Regions from separate parts of the Homo sapiens genome. Here region 1 is linked to region 2. A link means that fine-mapping ties the variant in region 2 to the expression of a gene that starts in the linked region. Tissue or cell type: whole blood. Region 2 holds a variant in brackets; the other region holds the start of a gene. All regions are shown on one strand. Distances are between the middles of the regions. Region 1 holds the start of SQOR (sulfide quinone oxidoreductase). Region 2 overlaps SQOR (sulfide quinone oxidoreductase).

The links.
Region 1: it holds the start of SQOR, and the variant in region 2 is fine-mapped to the expression of SQOR in whole blood (TOPMed, PIP above 0.99).

Annotation. Positions count from the first base shown.
Region 1 is chr15:45,631,100-45,639,430 of GRCh38, forward strand. It overlaps SQOR (sulfide quinone oxidoreductase), which reads left to right and starts at 3,930. Exons shown (of 10, transcript NM_021199.4): 1 at 3,930-4,009. RefSeq lists enhancers at 3,074-4,069, 4,532-4,621, 4,652-4,701, 6,531-6,610, 6,641-6,700 and a silencer at 3,882-4,051.
Region 2 is chr15:45,654,561-45,662,891 of GRCh38, forward strand. It overlaps SQOR (sulfide quinone oxidoreductase), which reads left to right. Exons shown (of 10, transcript NM_021199.4): 2 at 4,347-4,597; 3 at 7,395-7,565. The coding sequence starts at 4,364. Among named protein-coding and RNA genes, the nearest start is that of SQOR, 24 kb to the left of the region's middle. The variant G/C (reference allele first, on the strand shown) is at 4,350.

The DNA of each region.
Region 1 (8,331 bases), 23 kb before region 2:
CTCACGAGATCTGATGGGTTTATTAGGGGTTTCTGCTTTTGCTTCTTCCTCATTTTCTCTTGCCGCCACCATGTAAGAAGCGCCTTTCGCCTCCCTCCATGATTCTGAGGCCTCCCCAGCCACATGGTACTGTAAGTCCAATTAAACTTCTTTTTCTTCCCAGTCTTGGGTATGTCTTTATCAGCAGTGTGAAAACAAATTAATACAACCTGTTCATCTGCCTATCTGGTTCTGAGACTGCCCTGTGGCTTGGCAGGATGAAACACCATGTGATGCTTGCTCCCTGATGCATAGCAAGAACTCATTCCCAGCTCTCCCACAAGTCTCATTGCTTAGCTGTGAAGCCTTGGCTGGGTTACTGTCCCAGCTAGGGAGGGTTTGCTGGGGAGGCTAGGGTATGAGTTGTTTCTCTAGCTACTCATCCAGGAAGCATTTGCAGCAGGGAAGGGATGAGGGTGGGGCTTGCTGATCGGGCAGGAAAGACAGTACTGGAGGATCAGCCTCTTTGCTCTGATCTTCCTCCTGAGCCTTCCCTTTCTTGTGATAAGGATCCCTTTCACTGTTCCATTCTCTATTTCCACCCATTCCTGTTGCCAGCCCTTCCTGCCCACGTGTCTGCAAATCTTCCCAGAGCCCTGATTTGGATTTATTTTCCTTCTCCCGGATGTTCTTGAATTGGGGTGTGTTCCTCTTAGTGCTAGCTCCTCCTATCACTTCTTCTTCCCATCCTTTAATGATACTTCTTTCAGTTTCCCATATCCCCAAGTGCACTTTCATTCCTCGCAAACTTCACATGGGTAGGAATCAAGTCTGATTTTTTTCAACAGTGTATGCCTAGACAGCGGGCACAGGGCTTGCTGGACACAGAAGGCAAGGACTCAGAGAATATCCACCAGATGAAAGAATGACTGCATGAGTAAGTGAGTCAACTCTCAGTCCCCTTCCTTGTCTGATGGGCAAGTTACAACTTCTGTTCTCCTTTGAAGTATTCTCTTTTGCATTGGAAGGAGGGCTCTTGAGTGAGATAGTAGAATACATACACTGGAGGATCTCAGCATGTGGGATATGCTCAGGACATTTCCCTCCCCCTCCCCTCCCCTCCCTCCCTCCCTCCCTCCCTCCTTCCTTCCTTCCTTTTTTGATGGAGTCTCGCTCTGTTGCCCAGGCTGGAGTGCAGTGGCACGATCTTGGCTCACTGCAACCTCCGCCTGCTGGGTTCAAGCAATTCTCCTGCCTCAGCCTCCCGAGTAGCTGGGACTACAGGCACGTGCCACAATGCCCGGCTAATTTTTTTGTATTTTTAGTAGAGACGGGGTTTCATCATGCTGGCCAGGCTGGTCTCGAACTCCTGACCTCGTGATCTGCCTGCCACAGCCTCCCAAAGTGCTAGGATTACAGGCACGAGCCACCGCACCCAGCCCAGGACATGTTTCTTAACTCTGAATCTGGTTCCACAGCCATCAATCTCAAACCACCCAGCAGGCAGCACATCTCCTGTGACTCCTTCCCGCCTGCATCCTTCCCATTTAAACCAGGGCTTCTTGGCTTGGATGTGGAGGGTGATGGGACTGGGAAGTGGGGTGAAGCATTTTGGAAATATAGGAGGGGACTTTTTATTTGTCATAAATTTGGGAGAGAGTCTATTGGCATTTAGAGAGTGGGAACCAAGGAAGCCAACCTCCCTTGCTATGTGAACAGGGCCATATAACAATGAACTGTCCTGGCCAGTCATGGTGGCCCACTCCTCTAATCCCAGTACCTTGAGAGGCTGAGGCGGGAGGATGGCTTGAGCCCAGGAGTTCAAGACCAGCCTAGGCAATGTAGTGAGATCTCCATCTCTACAAAAAAAAAAAATAAATAAATTTAGAAAAAAATTAGTTGGGCATGGTGGCACATGCCTGTGGTCTCAGTTATTTGGGAGGCTGAGGTAGGAGGACTGTTTAAGCTCCAGAGGTCAAGGCTGCAGGAAGCTGTTATCGCACCATTGCACTCAAACCTGGGTAGCAGAGTGAGACCCTGTCTCAATTAAAAAAAAAAAAACCCAAAAAACCAAAAACCCAATTAACTGTCCAGAGTCCTGCACAATTTCTGGTGTCCTGTGCCTTGCACCAACATTCAAGTATGCAAAAAACCATTTTTTTGGTAAAGTTATTTAGGTTCTAGTTCAGATAATTATAAACATTAAGCATTTTGCATGGTTTTCATACTAAAATTTCCAGGAATGTTTCTATTGGAATAAAGGAAGAAAAGAGTATACTTTGTTTTGTTCAGAGCTTCTTTACCAGAGTTATTTGCCATTTCAAAAAATCATGTTGGCTGGGTGCGATGGCTCACGCCTGTAATCCCAGCACTTTGGGAGGCCAAGGTGGGTGGATCACTTGGTCAGGAGTTCAAGACCAGCCTGGCCAACATGGTGAAACCCTGTCTCTACTAAAAATACAAAAATTAGCCATGGGTGGTGGTGGATGCCTGTAGTCCCAGCTACTCGGGAGGCTGAGGCAGGAGAATCACTTGAATCCGGGAGGTGGACGTTGTAGTGAGCTGAGATCACACCACTGCACTCCAGCCTGGGAGACGGAGTGAGACTTCGCCTCAAAAAAAAAAAAAAAAAAAAGAAGAAGAAGAAAATCATGTCACAGAAGCAATGCTGCAGATGGAATTGAGTTACCAATAAAAGTCTACAGTCTGCGTTTGTATTGTATTGTTCATGATGATTTTGCCATAGATACAGTCAGTCTCTTTGATTAAAGATAGAAAGTATCAGTTGAAAACATTTAAAAAAATAATATTCAAGGCTGGGCATGGTGGCTCACGCCTGTAATCCCAGCACTTTGGGAGGCCCAGGAGGGCAGATCGCTTGAGGCCAGGAGTTTGAGACCAGCTTGGCCAACATGGTGAAACCTCATCTCTACTGAAACATACAAAAATTAGCCGGGCATGGTGGCACACACCTGTAGTCCCAGCTACTCAGGAGGCTGAGACACCAGAATTGGTTGAACCCATGAGGCAGATGTTGCAGTGAGCCGAGATTGCTCTACTCACTGCGCTCCAGCCTGGGCAACACAGTGAGACTCTGTTTCAAAAAACAACAACAACAACTATATATATATATATATATATATATATTCAAAATTCATAAAACCAAATAAGTGTAAAAGAAACTCAAACTTTCAAGGGTTTATTTTTGTTTGTTTTTTTGAAAGCTTCTAGCACTTGCACTTCTCAGGTTATGAGACTTTTGGGACACCCTGTATTTATTGTAAAAAGGGTTACTGAATCTGATATGGTGGAGAACCACTCACTGAGACTTTACATCAACCTGGAAAGAGCCGCCAACTGAAAATGTCCAGTCATGAATATGGGATGGGACACTGTGGAGGCCAGTGGCTGGAAGCCAGCTTACCCCTGCCTGCGCGTTTTGAAGGAAGGGCTCCAGCGCACACCAAAGCTGAACCTCGGTCACCTTCTCTGTGAAATGAGCGCGGGAATACCTGTGTTTCTGGGCAGCTGTGTGAACCCGGTGAGAAGCCCAGGGCACATAGGAGGACCCAGTGGGAACAGCCAGAGCCTCTCTGCACAGCGCCCCGCCTCCGCTTTTGCCTGCCCTGATTACAAAACGCTGTTGGCACCCAGGGGCGGAAGCGTCAGGTGGCCTCGGTGTCCTCCGCCTGTGCGCCCCAGCCTGCGGGGCCGCCCTTCAGGGCGCGCAAGGGGCGAGTCTGTCCAGCCGGCAGCACCCCAGGCCGGATGGACGCTTGTTCCTGGTTCTGTGCCCCGTGAGCGCTCAACGCCCTGGTGTGTTCACTGACCATGGTGCCTGGGCTGCGGCGCCGGGCGGGGCACGGCGGGACTTTTCGGGACCTTTCCTGGGGGGAGCCTCGCTTTCCCCGCCTCCAGCCTCCGCCCGGATGGCAGGCGGGCGGGGCCCCAGTCCAGGCCTTGAGACCCAGAAGGGAGCGAAGGTTTTTGCTGCGCCAACGCAGTGACCGAAGGCTCCGCTCACGCCCGGGTAAGAGGCATCCGCGGCCGATCTTTGGCCCTGGGCCAGCGGAGGGAGACTGGGCGGGGACAGCGACCACCACTGAGGCTGTTTGTTAGCTTAACTCGGTTTCCGCAGCTGGGACTCCGCAGACCCGGTGCGCCGCGCCCCAAACTTTGCTTCCTCAACTCCGGACACCTGCAGCTCTTGCTGCCCTTGTCTGGAACCCGGGTCTTGGGACTCTTGCTTCCTTCTCAGAGTGTCAGAGCCTCAGGGCCGCGGAGAGGCCAACCCGCGAGGGGTGCTTAAAAACCGAAGTATCCGTGGTCTTGGTGTGTGGACGTTTCTGGCGCCTTCCACCTGTTGACTGTCACTCGGCACCGTCCTGGAGCGGGAGTGGGTGCTCGGCGTCCGGGGGCCAGGGATTGACACAGTCATCCACCGACACTGCGCGTGGGACAGAGGGGGCGCTCGAGGGGTCGGCTGCAGCTGAAACCTGAAGGGGAGAGGATTTAGGGCACCTGCTGAACAGGAATTGGTGGAAAGGGAGAAGGGGTCTTCTGGTGGAATCTGGGCTCATTTCCTTTCCTCTTCATCTGTCTCTTTTATTTATCAAAATTCCAACCTGGCTTTTTGCTCAAAGACGCTGAACAGAGCCCCTGGCTTTGCCTGCGCTGCCCATTGCTATAATGCAGGGCTCTGTTCCATTTTTGTGCTGTGCACCCCTTTGGCATTTCTGGGAAGGCTAAAGACTCTCAGAACAATACTTTTTTTTGAGACAGAGTCTTGCTCTGTCGCCCAAGCTGGAGTGCAGTGGCGCGATCTCGGCTCACTGCCACCTCCACCTCCCGGGTTCAAGCGATTCTCCTGCCTCAGCCTGCCGAGTAACTGGGATTACAGGCGCAGCACACCTGGCTAATTTTAGTATTTGTAGTAGAGGCGGGTTTCACCATGTTGCCCAGCTGGTCTCGAACTCCTGGCCTCAAATGATCCGCACACTTCGGCCTTCCAAAGTGCTGGGATTACACGAGTGAGCCACCGCGCTGGACCAGAACAATGCTTTTTTAAAGGTATAAAACAAAAGGAAGAGTATTATAAAGGAAACCAATTGCAAAACACATGTCAAAACATTAAAAGAATTTATGATATGGTAATATATATGTCTTTAAAAAACGAATGCGTTATTTAATAACAAGGTTATTAAATAACAAGATCTAGCAGTGGATTAAATAGTTACCATAATTTTGAAGTAGTAAAGAACATAAACAATTATTTCAAGATATAGGTAATACTTGTAATATAAGAAAATATCTGTAATTTCTTTCTTCTTTTTTTTTTTTTTTTGAGACGGAGTCTCACTCTGTCACCAGGCTGGAGTGCAGTGGCGCGATCTCGGTTCAATGCAACCTCCGCCTGCTGGGTTCAAGTGATTCTCCTGCCTCAGCCTCCCGAGTAGATGGGACTACAGGTGTGTGCCACCACACCCAGCTAATTTTTGTATTTTTAGTAGAGACAGGATTTCACCATATTGTCCAGGATGGTCTCGATCTCTTGACCTTGTGATACGCCCACCTTGGACTCCCAAAGTTCTGGGATTACAGGCATGAGCCACTGCGCACGGCCAATATCTGTGATTTCTATTGGTGACAAAGTCTTAGTATTGCCAATACTGCTGTGGTTTGTTGGCTACATACATAATTGAAGTAAATGTTAAATTTCAGTTAGATACTAGAGAAATAAAAGATGTAAATATTAAATATCCGTAAAAATAAAGATGTAAAATACTTTTCCATCTAAGTTTTTGGGTCCAGGTTAAGATCCTCTGATAGTAGAAAGGGCACTGACCCAATGACTTGGCTTCTGGGCTTGACACTTCCATTGACATTTCCAAGGCCCATTGTAACCTTGGCTTTTTTTTTTTTTTGAGACATGGTCTTGCTGTGTCGCCTAAGCTGGAGTACAGTGAGGTGATCTCTGCTCACTGCAACCTCCTCGCAGGTTCGAGTGATTCGCCTGCCTCAGCATCCCTAGTAGCTGGGATTACACCAGCCACCCACCACCACACCTGGCTAATTTTTGTATTTTTTGGTAGAGACAGGGTTTCACCATATTGGCTAGGCTGGTCTTGAACTGCTGACCTCAAGTGATCTGCCCTTGTCTGCTTCCCAAAGCAACCACCACACCCAGCTTAACTTTGGCTTTTGAATTTCTTTTCGCCTCAGCTTCTTCATTGTACAGTGGAGATAATAACACCTTCCCAAGTATTTAAGGCACCCAGCACTGCACTTAGTGTAGAGGGCTGAAGTAGATACCATTTATCAGAACTTATTTGTATCCCTCCCAAGCTTATGGCCTTATATCCCCAAGCCTGGGGAGGTACTCATTATTTATTGAATGAATAAGTGGGTCAGAAAGGGTTGCTTGTGACTAAGTCCAAAAAACAAAATTCATTAAGGAGACAGCTGGTGGTTTGGGAAATGACTTTGTTTAAATTTGGGGCTTTTTTTCTGGCTGGAAAAATATATAAACACATTTGGAACGGGGGTGTTTGAAATGTCAGTCAGGGCCCAGGGTCTGTGTGTGCGTGTCTGTGTGGCTGGTGTTCTGCCAGTGAAAATGAAACTGAATGTTGAAAGGAAACCGGATTCCTTTGCAGAACAGTTTCTCCTCCATGTTGCCTGTGTCTAGCTTTGTTAATCCGATGTGTTGTAACACAGGAAATGTCTTATAAAGAATGGAGACGGACCCATGACAAGGCATTTCTGGGCATAGATGTACTTTTTTCTTCTCCTTTCACGTTTCCCTGCTCCACTATCTACTATATAACTCCTCTTTGACTCTGAAGACTTGGTAAATAGGAGCAGTTTGGATAGCTTATGGAAAGCTGCCCAGACCTGGCTGGAAGCCAACTAGTTGCTTCTTAATCCCAGCCTTAAAAATCTTTGTAATCCCCAGATGTAGGTGGTAATAATAATAAAGAAAAGTAGATCTAGCCAACCATCCCTGTGATTTACATTGAGAAAGTGCTAAATTGGGACAGGAGGTAGAGAACTTTGTGGAAAAAAACAAAACAGAACAAAAAAACCCTCGGAAATTTAGAACACACTGGGACTATCTATGTCTGTAACTTTGGGAAGGGCAAATACTGGTGTTATGGACTCACCAAATTCATATATTGAAACCCTAGCCCCCAGGATCTTAGAATGTGACTGTATTAGGAGATAGTGCCTTAGTTAGAAGTGGTGGTGAGCACCTGTAGCCCCAGCTACTTGGGAGGCTGAGGTGGGAGAACTGCTTGAGCTCAGAAGTTCGAGGCTAGCCTGAGCAACATAGCAAGACCTTGTCTCAATAAAAGAATAATTAGCCAGGCACGGTGGCTCACGCCTGTAATCCCAGCACTTTGGGAGGCCGAGGTAAGCAGATCGCTTGAGGCTGGGAGTTTGAGGCCAGCCTGGCCAACATAGAGGAACCCCGTCTCTACTAAAAATTCAAAATATTAGCTGGGTGGGGTAGTGTGCACCTGTAATTCCAACTACTCAGGGGGCTGAGGCATGAGACTTGCTTGAACCGGAGAGGAGGAAGTTGCATTGAGCCAAGATTATCATGCCACTGCATTCTAGCCTGCGCAACAGAGCAAGACTCTGTCTCAAAAAAAGAAAGAAAGAAAAAAAAAAAAGGAAAATTAAGTTAGGTCATTAAGGTGGAGCCCTAATCCAATATGAATAGTATCCTTATAAGAAGATGACTCGTCAGGAGCACATGTGCACAGAGAAAAGGCCACGCAAAGGCACACTGAGAAGGTGGCCATCTGCAAACCAGGGAGAGAGATCCCAGGAGAAACCAGTCTCATCAGCACTGAGGTCTTGGACTTTCAATCTCCAGAACTTTGAGAAAATAAATTTCTGTTCTCTAGACTTCATCTAGTCTATAGTGTTTTGTTATGGCAGCCCTAGAAAATTAATACAACTGGTTCTACCAAATGGACAATAGGTTTAAAAAAAATGGCTACAACTAGGCACCATCTCTTTTAAGTCATGATCCCGACATGTCCATCACTTGCTCTTAGGATCTCTTACCCAACCTATGCAGAAGAGTCTCCCATGTACTTTCCTTCTACAGACACCCTGTGTGGTCCCTAGGATCTTGCCTGAAGTTGTTAAAGCCATATTCAGCTTCATGATTTTGACTGTTAGGAAAAGAAAAACTTGGCCTCTTCAGCAAGTGACCTAGGTTAGCTGTTGTGCCATGTACATAGTAAGTACTTTGTAAATGTATGGTGGGTGATGGGTGATGATGTTATGATCATCCTTAAATACCATGGGGTGACTCCCTTCTGATCATAATGAATCTCC
Region 2 (8,331 bases):
TTCAAGAGAGGAACCATGAAGTATTAGACTGGAAGGGAGCTAGTGAAGTGGCTACATTGACTGGCGTGTATACCCATGGTTTATCGTGTTGCGCCAGGAAAATTTAGGACATGGACACACACAAGGAGTTTCGGAGTGGAGGTTTAATAGACAGGAGAAAAGAGAAAGAAAAACAACTCTCTCTATTGAGAGAGAGGGGTCTTCTGAGTGGAAAGACGTGGCCGGTGGTGGATATGTCAGATTTTATAGTCAGGTTGGTGGAGGCGGTGTCTGATTTACATAGGGCTCACAGATTGGTTTGATCAGGTATGATGTTTACATAGTGCATCAGGAAGGCTGGCCTCCCCACCCTCATCTTATTATGCAAATGAACTTTCCCCTTAGTTGGGGCCATCTTGTCTGCTCCTTACTGTACACATGGCTGACAAAGCAAAGGGAAAATGGAGCCGCCATCTTGAACATGATTGCCAGCATCTATGTCTGCAGCTCGATTTTACAGGCTGCTTTTGTTAGACAGGAAAATGATTTGGGGCTGCTTTTCATTAAAAGGAAAACCTTACCGAGGACTTCCATACCCTCACTATCTGCCTAAGTAAATTTTTCTTAACTCTTGTATCACTTGGAGGCCAAATAACCTCAGACAGGGTGGCTGGAAACCAGAAACTTAGCCAGGCCTCCTCCTAGATTGCTCCTCCTGCCCCTGCCCCATGGGGCGCTTCCTATGGGGCTTTTCCCATGGAGATAGATATAGTGTCAGGACCATGAAAAACATGATTTTTCTTTTCTGGAAAGTGAGAAGTTTTGCTGTGATTCTATCATTCTGTGGACATTTAGAAAGAAAAGCAGGATGTGATGACTGGGTACACACCATAAAATATCTTCTTCCTTCCGTATGAAACATCAATATCTTACTTGGTGATTTCTTCTTCTCTTCAATCTAAAAAAAATCTATTTGAGTAATTTTTAAAATTTAAAATGTACAGTGTATTAAAGAAAATTTGTGAAAAGTACATACAAAGAAGAGGGAAAATAATTATAATCATTAAAACCATTGCTAATATTTAGGTATCAGTATCATGAAAAATGGTTTCCCTTTTCTGGGAAGTTGTAGAAAGTATATCTTTTTTTTTTTTTTCTTTTTGAGACAGAGTCTCACTCTGTTGCCCAGGCTGGAGTGCAGTGGCGCAATCTTGGCTTACTGCAACCTTCGCCTCACGGGTTCAAGTGATTCCCCTGCCTCAGCCTCCCCAGTAGCTGGGACTACAGGTGTACACCACCATGCCCAGCTAATTTTTTTTTGTATTTTAGTAGAGACGGGATTTCACCATGTTGGCCAGGATGGTCTCGATCTCCTGACCTTGTGATCCGCCCGCCTTGGCCTCCCAAAGTGCTAGGATTACAGGCGTGAGCCACCGTGCCTGGCCTATTTTTTTTTTTTTCCCCGTTTAACATTATCACACAAGCATTGTTTTGTTGCTGTTGAGACATATTGTTCTAAAGATCATAGAGATAGTATGGTGTAGTGGTTTAAAGTAGAGGCTCTCACACCAAAATACCTGGGTACAAATCACAGTCCACCCATGGGCTATATAACTTTGAGAGTCACTTAACTGCTATCTGCCTTAGTTTTACCATCTGTTAAATGGGAATGATGGTGGTAGCCAACTCACAAGTTAAATGCTTATGTAAAGGACTTTGTAAATGTTAATTATCATCTAAAGGAAGATTTTATTAATATTAATTTTATTTATTTATTTTGAGACAGGGTCTCCCTCTCTTCCCAGGCTGGAGTACAGTGGTGAAATCACAGATCACTGTGGCCTTCACCTCCCGGGCTTGAGTGATCCTTCCACTTCAGCCTTGGTAGTAGCTGGGTGCACCACCATGCCTGGCTAATTTTTTTTTTTTTTAAATAGAGTTGGGGTTTCCCCATGTTTTCCATGCTAGTCTCAAACTCCTGGGCTCAGGTGATCCCTCTCTCTCAGCCTCCTAAAGTGCTGGGATTACAGGTGTGAGCCACCATGCCCAGCCAATATTAATGTATGTGTATAGTAGAGACTTTTATAAAATACATAAAAGCAGAAGAAATCAAAATCACTCATTATTCTAAAACCCAGAGAAAACCACTTGCCAGTGTTAAAATTTTGGCTTTGTTTTTTCTAATATATTTCCTCTTACATAGTTGAGAGAATATTGCATTTCTAATTTGTATCCTGATCATGATGTAAACATTTTTTATTTATTTTATTTTATTGTTTTTTTCAGACAGAGTCTCACTCTGTCACCCAGGTTGGAGTGCAGTGGCATGATCTCAGCTTACTGCAACCTCTGCCTCCTGGGTTCAAGCAATTCTCATGGCTCAGCCTCCCTAGTAGCTGGGATTACAGGCACACACCACCACGCCTGGCTAAAAATTTTTGTATTTTTAGTAGAGACAGGGTTTCACCATGTTGGCCAGGGTGGTCTTGAACTGCTGACCTCAGGTGATCCACCTGTCTTGGCCTCCCAAAGTGCTGGGATTACCGGTGTGAACCACCACGCCTGGTCTATATATTGTTTATGAACATAATTTTAAAAGACTTCAGAAATCATCTTGTGTTCCATATTTTAGTTAACCTTTCCCCAGTGTTTTGATATTTGCATTGCTCTCTGCCCCCATATTAAAGTGGTGACCTGAGCCTTCCCTGGCCCGTGTGGAGCCTGCATTTTTTTTTTTCTGTCCCCAGGACATAATTAGCCCTAATCCACAAACCAATTAGTAGAGGGGTGACCAGATTATGAATACATTTGTGAAAAACATCTTTGTAGTGGTTTTTCTTCTTCAGTATTAGAGGTTATTTCCTTAGATTAGATTCCTAGAAATGGAAATGCAGGGTCAAAGGGTAAGTTTCCAGAAGGGTTTTATTGACTCTAGACTCCTGGAAACACTGTATGAGCCTGTCCTACTTACCGTGGGCCTCCAAATCCCCTTCCTACAGCTCTAGGTTGCTTCTCAGATCTGAAATATTGAAGAAGTTGTCGGGGCACCAAAACTCTGGAATTAAGTTAATCTTAACAGCCCCTCAGCTCCTCTTTCCCATTCCCTATTATTTTTCCCCCTCTCCAAGGCCTTTCTTTCTTTTTGTAGCTCCTCTGCCCTGCCAGCTTTCTCTAATCCCCTTGTGCAGGCTTCCTCTTCTCCAGTCGGGAGGATGGAAATGATATAATTAAGTCATTTTATTAAGTAGTTAGTAACCTTAGCAGCTAGAAGTGTTAGTCCCCAGCTGGACACTTGCATTTTAATAAAGGGTTCTTGGAGCAGTGGTGAACCCTAAGAACTGGACTTGACGGTAGGATTTGGGGCACTGTCATACCCAGGGAGGGAGATATCATGAGCCGGAGCCACTCAAGGTTTACAAGTAGATGGAGTCCTGGATGTCAGGCCAGCTTTGTGTGTGGGGTAAAGCAAAGGTCAGTCTTTGAGAAGCCTTAATTTCCTCTCTGCCAAAGCACTAACTGCTGAGAGTAGAAACAGGTTTTCTTAAAGGTAAAGTGAGTCTCTCGGAGGAACTATTAAGGAGAAATTGTTTACTGAATTGGATGTAATAAAAGACTAGTCAGCAGCATATACAGATTCCTTCCATAAAATATAACTTTATGATACCAGGCAGGGCTCCTTTTATGGCTTTCTAAAATCGTTTGGTTGAAATTGCTAGAGGTGTGGAGGGCCTTCACTTGTGTGTCGGTAGCCAGTGATTTGATTACATTATATTTCCCTGGGCAAGCAGAGCCAGGAGGCCTCTGGATGGGGGCTGAGGCCTTGATTGCCCTGGTGGGTACTCTGAGTTGCAGAAGGTGGGTTTCTTGCTAGACGGTTTCTGTTTCAACAAGGTCTCAGGTGCCTTTTACTGCAAGGAATGTTGTAGGTCTCTAATTGTGGACTCGTATATCAGTTTTAATGGACTGAAAATCCACAGAAAGCACTGGGGAGTGTGCCTCCGTGGAGAATGGGCCAACAGCTGGATACAACCAGATGGTGCCCTAGATCTTACGGATGGACAAGGATGGGTACAGACAGGTTATTAGGAAGGACTTAAAGAGTTGGGGAACCTGATTCAAACAAAGTCCTCGATAGCCTGAACGTAGGCGGAAGGGGAGAAATGGTAAGTGTAGTCAACTGATAGCTACCAATTGGGTGCTCTCAGGAGACCTTGGGACCACAGCCAGTGGGGAAAGTGGTCTTGAGAGATGATGGGGACCAGCTGGAGCGGGCCAGATGCCGGCCTCCCTTCCTCCTGGAAAGAAAACGCTTCAGTCCCACGATGGTTTCTACCTTGGCACTCACAGCCCTGTCTCTTCCCTTCCAGCCT[G/C]ATCCTGCCTGAAGATGGTGCCACTGGTGGCTGTGGTATCAGGGCCCCGTGCCCAGCTCTTTGCCTGCCTGCTCAGGCTGGGCACTCAGCAGGTCGGCCCCCTTCAGCTGCACACCGGGGCCAGCCATGCGGCCAGGAACCATTATGAGGTGCTGGTGCTGGGTGGGGGCAGTGGCGGAATCACCATGGCTGCCCGCATGAAGAGGAAAGTGGGTGCAGAGAATGTGGCCATTGTTGAGCCCAGTGAGGTAAGCCTCCCCTTTTGAGGGCCTGGGTGTGTGTGTACGTGTGTGTGTGTGTGAGTGTGTGTGTGTGTGTGTTCTGGGGTTGGATATGACTATCAAGCAATGGGTCTTCATATGTTCAGGTTAGGGCTTCTCCTGGGCACAGAAAGCAGCCTATCCAGAAGGACTGGGAGGAAGTGGAGGGAAAGAGAGAGGGAGAACAGATCTCTTGGCTTTTAGTGTTCTCCTCTGTATTAGTTTCTTAGGGCTGCCATAACAAATTACTGCAAATTGGGTGGCTTAAAACAACAGACATCTATTCCCTCACAGTTCTGGAGGCTAGAAGCCTGAAACCAAGCTATGGGCAAGGCCATGCTCCCTCTGCAGCCTGGGTGAGAGGGATGGGCAGGTGGCTTTGTCTCATGCCTCTCTCCCAGCTTCTGGTGGTTACCCTGAAATCCTTGCCACTCTCTGGCTTGTAGCTGTGCCACTCCTTTCTCTGCCTCCATCTTCACAGAATGTTCTCTGTGTGTCTCTGTGTCCCTGTGTCTTCACATGACCCTTTTATAAAGCCACCATTCATTGGATTTATGGCACACTCTATTCAAGAATGACCTCATCTTAATTTGATTACATTTGCAAAGACCCTATTTCCAAATAAGGTTACATTCCCAGGTACTGGGGTTAGAACGTCAACATCCTTCTTTGAGAGAGATACAATTCAACCCATGACACTCTCCCAGTGCCAACCTCCTGCCCAGAGGAAAATCAATGGCCACTGCACTTGCCTATCTGTTCCTGTCTGGAGAAGGGATGATGAGTTGGGGAGCAGGAAGGCCTCTGGAAAGCTGTCAGTGGGCTTAGAAATTTAAATGCAAGGGCAGATTATAAGGGAGAAAAGGTAGCTGACACTAGGAGGGAAGACTGAGTAAGGCGCTGTCTCACAAAAAACATGTTAAGATTGTCCAAAAGCTTCAGAAAAATATTCAAGATTTTTGGTGGTTTGCCTAATGTTTCCTGTGGAACTAGGCATGTACTGGTTGGGAGCTGTATCCTTGGGAGGAAAAAGCAAAATGGATCAGGTGCCTGTTTCAGGGGGAGGACAGGACAAGGAAGACATACTCCTTTTCAAGATTTGTCCCCAGCAGGGAATGATGTTAACCAGGGCCATGATTTGAGAGGAAACTAGGGGGCAGTCTCTATCATTTTCCTTTTTAAAGTGACGTCTGTTCAATTCAGGAACCTCACTTTAAATGACAGTGGTCTGAGAGCTGTGTCAGGTGGCTACTGTTTCTGGTATATGTTGTATTTTAGCTAATGCGTGGGCGGGTCTCCCAGTCAGGCTTCTCTTTGTAAGGAGACTGGCTCTTCTGGGACCTGGGCACAATTCAGGCGGCCAGAATCAAGTTTGTCCTGCCCCGTGAGGAAGTACAGGACAGGAATTTCTGGAAGGAGCTGCCAGAGCCCCAGGCTTGGTACTTTCCCTGCTGAGTCTGATTTAGTGATAGCTGGAGCTGATGTTCATAGTCTAAAAATAAAATCTGAGCTTGTATTTTTGCTCCTCTTACTGTTCAAGATAGACTGGCCATTGATGAGCTCTCATAAATGGAGACCTCTGTCTTCCTCCCTCTTGGATCACATTATTGCTTGTAGGGAGATTGCAAAGTCATTCCTGGTGTCCTCTTCACCTCTCTGTGGGTTTTGGCAGTGCTGGCCAGCTACTTTGAGGCATTTTGGCAATATTGAGAGCTCTTGGTCCCCAGTCTACTCTAAGTGGATTGGAATTCTTAGAGGCCATTAAACAAATCTGCCCTTTGCCCCTATGTCCAGAACTTTTACAACTAACTTAGATCAAGAATGGACTGTTGCTGGGCACAGTGGCTCAGGGCTGTAATCCCAGCACTTTGAGAGGCTGAGGAAGGCAGATCACCTGAGGTCAGGAGTTCAAGACCAACCTAGGCAACATGGTGAAATGCCATCTCTACTAAAAATGCAAAAATTAGCCAGGCATGGTGGCACATGCCTGTAGTCCCAGCTACTCAGGAGGCTGAGGCAGAAGAATCGCCTGAACCTGGGAGGTGGAGGTTGCAGTGAGCCGAGATCGTGCCACTGCACTCCAGCCTGGGTGATTGGGGTGATTGGGCGAGACTCTGTCTTAAAAAAAAAAAAAAAAAAAAAAAAGGACCATCTGAAGCAAGAAAACTCCAGAAGATAGTGAAAGTTTGGGTATGCATTGCATTGTGGAGTAGGATCTGGTACTTATTGTCTTTGGTGTAAAATCTCTGAGTCTCTGAGAAAGTAGAAGAAGGGCTGTTCAGGAAACACAGCCCTCACTGGGCTTGGGAAACACAGTTGGAAGTTAATGAAGTTTAGAGGACCTCTGGAAGGGGCTGTAAACTTTCCAGACTTACCACTGTCTCCACATGCTCCTGAGGAACCATATCTAGGCTGCTGGGCTTAATTTTTAAAATATTTGTTCACATGAAGTATCCATAATATGTGTGTAGATATGCACGTGCATATAACATGTACATATTAAACACCAAATCAACTTTCAGCAATACATAATGCAGTGGTCACTAAAGATAGTTTATAGCTTTTCTGATGATCTTGGAAGAATTCTTGTGTGGAGTGACTGTCCTTCAGAGCTTACCATAATAGGAGACGCCTAATAGACGGAGCTAACTTTGTGGAGACTTTTCCATACGATGCTCTAAAGGTCAGGAGGGAGTGATTGAAAGAATCTAGCCCATACTGTTAGCTATGACCCCTTTTGATCAGTGTCAAATTGCAATAAATCTTCAAATACTTTGTTTCTCAGAGACATTTCTACCAGCCAATCTGGACACTGGTGGGTGCTGGTGCCAAACAATTGTCCTCATCTGGTCGTCCCACGGCAAGTGTGATTCCATCTGGTGTAGAATGGATCAAAGCTAGAGTGACTGAGTTGAACCCAGACAAGAACTGCATTCACACAGATGACGACGAGAAGGTAACCACTGAGGCCTTTAGATTTTTTGTTAATCTGACAGCTTGTATTAATATGCAGCCATCTTAAACTGGATAGCCTTGTGTTGAAAGAGCGGTATATATGCATGTGTGTGCATGAACGTATGTGTGTTGAATACTACACAAGATGGCAGGGTATGTGGTAAGTGGAGGATAGATGGAAGGACTGAGTGATATTGAGTTAATAAACAACTAAGATAAGTATTTGTTGAACACCCACTGTGCACCCTATTGCTTAGTATACTATCTTGCACCTGAATGTTTATCAGACCATTTGTTTATACGTTGCTACATGTTAAAATAGCAAGCACCTTCCTCCTTCTCTTTTTCTGAAGCAATCAGATTTTCTACCGGTCGCCTAGCCTCCCAGAACAATAGGATGCTGGAAAATATCCATCCAGCCACCCTGGGGGGCGCTCTACCAGAACTGTAGGGGAATCCTGTGACTCTGAGGTTCATGCCAGCGCTAAGGAGAATTGTTGCTGGAGCTTGAGGCTCACAACTGCTCAGCACCTTTTAGAAGTCTCCCACCCTCACCACTCAGGGGTCAAAGCTTTTCAGCAGTGGCCGCCCCATGTTTGACTGAGGTGATAAGAGCAGGATGGTGGAAGGCCTGCTCAGAAGCCATCTGCAGCTTTCTTTTCCCCCACCTGCTGCTGAGCCCAGGGCAGGGGCAGGCAGTGCAGCCACCGTGCTCTGACCTGTTCCAGGCTCCTGTGGTTTTTGGACTCACAAGGTGTTATTGGTCT